2 separate regions of the Homo sapiens genome follow, and region 1 is linked to region 2. A link means that fine-mapping ties the variant in region 2 to the expression of a gene that starts in the linked region. Tissue or cell type: whole blood. Region 2 holds a variant in brackets; the other region holds the start of a gene. All regions are shown on one strand. Distances are from middle to middle.

The links. PIP is the estimated chance that this variant, and not a neighbour inherited with it, causes the effect.
Region 1: it holds the start of MBD6, and the variant in region 2 is fine-mapped to the expression of MBD6 in whole blood (TOPMed, PIP above 0.99).

Annotation. Positions count from the first base shown.
Region 1 is chr12:57,521,348-57,523,963 of GRCh38, reverse strand. MBD6 (methyl-CpG binding domain protein 6) reads right to left here and starts at 1,140. Exons shown (of 13, transcript NM_052897.4): 1 at 953-1,140. RefSeq lists a silencer at 909-1,308 and enhancers at 1,569-1,708, 772-1,731, 1,829-1,898, 1,989-2,098, 1,732-2,616 and 1 more.
Region 2 is chr12:57,572,752-57,575,369 of GRCh38, reverse strand. KIF5A (kinesin family member 5A) reads right to left here. Exons shown (of 29, transcript NM_004984.4): 16 at 98-286. Among named protein-coding and RNA genes, the nearest start is that of PIP4K2C, 17 kb to the left of the region's middle. The variant C/T (reference allele first, on the strand shown) is at 1,631.

The DNA.
Region 1 (2,616 bases), 51 kb after region 2:
AGCACCCTCTCAAAAGAAAGATCCTTAACAATGTGAGGCAAGCACCTATAAAGATCTCGGGGATCTGCTGGCTTAGTCTACAACCATCCTTTCCAAGCCCAGTCCCTAGGGACCAGAGGGTCAGAACCTCAGCTCCCTGGGACCAAGAAAGTCTAGCCCAATTCTTAGGCATATGAAGGGCAAGGCCTCCCTCCATTCGGAGTAGAAGACTTCAACCAGGAGTATGGGCACATTCCCATAATGCTAGGCCACTAGGAAGTTTCCCAGAGTGTCTGGCTCCTGTTGTTCTCTACCCAGGAAGATGATATAAAAAGTACAGATTGCCCCACAGGTCACCAGGCAATTGCCCAACTGCCCGCTGGGGTGGTACCAGCAGAACTCCCCCCATGCCTGCTCCATCAGACAATCGCTGATATAGTTCATTCGGGTCTTAAGAGGTGAGGATCACAGCTCAGTCTTCTCCCAGGATCCTGGGAAGCTCCTGATTTTCCCTCAAGCCTACGGCAAAGGGATTCAGAACCTCCTATTCCACTGGCTTCCGATTATCTCCAAGAGAGCCTGTCCTCCGATAGAAGGGGAAGCCCCTCCAACCTGCAGGTATCCTCCCCAGCCTCACCATTGCTCCCACCCCACACTGGCGGCTTCCAAACTTTCCCTCTCACAACAAGGCGCCCTGTCACCCAGACTGCTTCCCTCAGCTTGAGGAGGAGGGGAAGGCGCACGAAGTAGGAAGGAACTTGGGGAGAGGGCGGGCGGAGGGTGGGCGAAGCACTGAGGGGAGGGCGGTGAGGAAGGCAGAAGTCTGGCAGTGAGAGGGAGAAGCGGCGGGGGCAGGTGAGGGCGGGGGAGTGGGGATGGGGCCGGGGAAAGGGGCCGAGAGGACGCGGAGGGGGCAGAGGGTAGGGACGGGAGGGGGAGGGGCAGGGTGGGGGGGGCCGGGCCCCGCACTCACCGCGGCCCATGGTTCGGCCGGCCCCGCCCTGCGCAGTCGCGGCCCAGAGGGTGAGTGGGAGGGGGTGGGAGGAGGGTCGGTGGAGCCCGAGCCTCCGGTACGGCCCCGGCCGGTCCTAGCAGGAAGCGCCGCTGCCGCCGCCGCGGATCACCGAGCGGCCTCCCGCGCATGCGCCATGGGGGCCAGGGGCAGCCCTGGGGATTCCGTTCCCAGAAGGCACTGCGCAGGCTGCTGCCGCTGCCGCCGCCGCCGTCGCTGCCGCAGCCGCCGCCGCAGGAGCCGCCGCCTCCGCCGCTGCCCGGACGGGAGAGGGGCGGGGCCGGGCCCCCGCCCAGCGGACAGCGACGAGCCAACTGGAGGGGCTGCAGTGCGCATGCGGGAGCGCGCCTACCCCTCCCCCACAACCCCCCATTAATCCCCAAGAGAACAAACACCCCACGCGGCCCCCCCGCCCTCCGCGGAAGGATCTGCGCCTCTTCCCAGGCCACTGGTGGCCAATCCCAGCCCTCCTCAGGGAGGGGCCCCTTCCAAAGCCACAGTCTGTTGCGGGAACCAGGAATGCCAGGTCCGGGAGGGGCCAGGCCCCGAAAGATGAAAGTCGCGACTTGCCCTGCCCCGCCCCAAAGGCTTCCCGGGTAGTGTGCTGGGACTTGACCCGCCTCCCCAGGTCAACATGTCACAACACGACCTCAGCCTGTCAAGTCACATGACCTCTGCCTGTCACTGACAACCTGGTCTGTCTTTAGGCCAGGGGAGACCATCTGGTCCACCCTCCACACTACCCCCATTTTCAGAGAGGAAATGGAGGTGTGGAGCAGCGGAGCAGCCTAACCAAAGACCTGTCATTGCCACACCACTCCAGTCACAACCGGCCTTGTGACAGTTTCTACTTAAACTCTGGCTGCCCCCATGAGGGTATGACAGGATATGTAACAGGCCACCACATGGCCTCTGTTTTCAAGGCACAAGAAAAATACTTTGCATTCTGGGTGGTGCGTTTTACTTTTGGTCAAGTTGCCTCCAAGTTCATGGTTCTCATTTTACCTTCACAACTTTTATCTTTAATTTACAAACAAGGACGGTAAGATCCCTTGGCAAGTGATGGGGAGTTGAGTCTAAAATCGCGGCTCCGGTCTCCCCAGTCCAGGGCAGTCCTGCGCTGAAGTGCACTCACACGTCCCGGGATGAGACTCCGCTGTAAATCTCGACCCGAACACCTAGGAGGCAGGCCTGTGCCGCGCTCCTCACACAGGGAGTCACAGGACTTGCTGTCTGGTACAGCAAGAGAGGGTCTTGGAGAAAGCCATAGGAGTACCGTGGGGGAAAATAGGTGGCCAAACAGAATCGGGTCCACTGGGCAAAATACATGACTTCTGGCAGGCTGAGGGCTTACCAACTACAAGGTAAAAGTCAAGGGCGCTGTTCTGAGAGAAGCGGAAAATGACTACCAAGGGATTCCAGTACCTCGGCCCCTTTTGGGAGATTTACGGGGCTAGAACAGGAGACCACCCCCGTTTTTTTGTTTGTTTGTTTTGTTTTTTGTTTTTGGTGAAACGTAGTCTCGCTCTGTCACCCAGGCTGGAGTGCAGTGGCGCGATCTCGGTCACTGCAACATCCGCCTCCAGGGTTCAAGCGATTCTTCTGCCTCTGCCTCCAGAGTAGCT
Region 2 (2,618 bases):
TTTGACATAAAGGTGGGTGTTAGGAGTTTTAGCCATAACCCCAGAGTAGCCTTCTTTCTCCCATGGCATCTGAAGGTTCTCAAACTTAGGCACTCACCTGAGAGATGAGGAGCTGGCAGGATGAGAGCTCCCGCCCGGTCACTTCCATCTTGCGGTGACACTCCACCTGGAGGTTCTCCAGCTGCCGGCACCGCTTGACCACAGACTTGACTTCTGATTTGATTTTGCTGATGTAGAGTCGGGCCACAGTGAACTCCTCCTCGATGGCCCCACTGATCTCCACTGGCTAAGGTGATTAAAGGAGGAAGAGATGCTTCTTGGCTGCTGGGAAGCTTTATCTGTTCCCTCCCACCTTCTACCTACCCATACACACCCACATACGCAGGGACTCAAATGGGATGGGTATTTTCCAAACGACCTTTAGCAGCTCTCTATCAGCGGCATTTCACATTAAATTCCTCCGCCTGCATTTAAAAATCCAATTCTGGCTGGGCGCAGTAGCTCATGCCTTGTAATCTCAGCACTTTGGGAGGTCAAGGTGGGTGGATCACCTGAGGTCAGGAGTTCGAGACCAGCCTGACCAACATGGTGGTGAAACCCTGTCTCTACTAAAAATACAAAATTAGCCAAGCATCATGGCACATGCCTGTAATCCCAGCTACTCAAGAGGCTGAGGCAGGAAATTGCTTGAACCCAGGAGGCGGAGGTTGCAGTGAACCGAGATCACACCACTGGACTCCAGCCTGGGCGACAGAGTGAGACTCCATCTCAAAAAAAAAAAAAAAAAATCCAATTCTGGGCCGGGCTCGGTGGCTCACGCCTGTAATCCCAACACTTTGGGAGGCCGAGGTGGGTGGACTACGAGGTCAGGAGTTCGAGACCAGCCTGGCCAATATGGTGAAACCCTCTCTCTACTAAAAACATAAAAAATTAGCCAGGAGAGGTGGTGTGTGCCTGTAGTCCCAGCTACTCGGGAGGCTGAAGCAGAAGAATTGCTTGAACCTGGGAGGCGGAGGTTGCAGTGAGCTGAGATCACACCACTGCACTCCAGCCTGGGCAACAGAGCAAGACTCCATCTCAAAAAAAAAAAAAAATCCAATTCTGACAGTCCCCCACTTACAAATAAATCTTATAAAGCAACATGATTTTCTTTTGATCTCCTTGATCACCCAGATTATTCTCACATCCACAGATTTGCATATTTCATTCTGAACTCTGTGCCTATGCCCCACCTCTAACTCCTACTGCAAGCACTGCTCTGTTGCTGCTGCTTTTTTTTTTTTTTTTTGAGACAGAGTCTCCCTCTGTCACCCAGGCTGGAGTGCAGTGCCGCATCTCTGCTCACTGCAAGCTCCGCCTCCCAGGTTCACGCCATTCTCCTGCCTCAGCCTCCTGAGTAGCTGGGACTACAGGCGCCCGCCACCATGCCTGGCTAATTTTTTGTATTTTTTTAGTAGAGACAGGGTTTCACTGTGTTAGCCAGGATGGTCTCAATCTCCTGACCTCGCCTCGGCCTCCCAAATTTTTTTTTTTTTTTTTTTGAGACGGAGTTTCACTCTTGTTGCCCAGGCTGGAGTGCAATGGTGCAATCTCGGCTCACTGCAACCTCCGCCTCCAGGTTCAAGCGATT[C/T]CCCTGCCTCAGCCACGTGAGTAGCTGGGATTACAGGCATGAGCCACCACACCCGGCTAATTTTATATTTTTAGTAGACACGGAGTTTCTCCATGTTGAACAGGCTGGTCTCGAACTCCTGACCTCAGGTGATCCACCCGCCTCGTCCTCCCAAAGTGCTGGGATTACAGGCGTGAGCCACCATGTACAGCCTCTTTTTTTTTTTTTTTAAGACAAGGTCTGGCTCTGTCACCCAGGCTGGATTGCAGTAGCTCAATCATGTCTCACTGCAGCCTCAACCTCCCATACTCAGGTGATTCTCCCACCTCAGCCTGTCAAGTAGCTGGTACTATAGGTGTGTGCCACCACCCCCAGCTAATCGTTTGTATTTTTTGTAGAGATAGGGTTTCACTATGTCACCCAGGCTGGTCGTGAACTCCTGGGCTCAAGCGATCCGCCTGTCTCAGCCTCCCAAAATGTTGGGATTACAGGCATGAACCACCATGCCTGGCCTCCATTGCTTCTTTATTCAGCACCCGTTAGAATTTAGTTTTGTTTTGTTTTGTTTTTAAGGCAGAGTCTCACTCTATAACCCAGGCTAGAGTGCAGTGGTGTGATCTCAGTTCACTGCAACCTCTACCTCCCAGGTTGAAGCGATTCTCCTGCCTCAGTCTCCTGAGTAGCTGGAATTACAGGTGCACATCACCACGCCTGGCTAATTTTTGTATTTTTAGTAGAGACAGGGTTTCGCCATGTTGGCGAGGTCAGGTCTCGAACTCCTGACCTCAAGTGATCCGCCTGCCTCGGCCTCCCAAAGTGCTGGGATTACAGCGGTGAGCCACTGCGCCCAACCTAGAATGTATCTTTTCAATTGGGTCTATACAAGCCTCTACCTGTCTTCCTGGGTCTAGTTCAAAGGCATGTTTCCTGGCTCTCTGGCTGCCTTTCTCAGTATCTGTGAAGGCCTGGATGGCTCATCTTGCGTCTTCCACTAGTGCCCAGCCTGAAC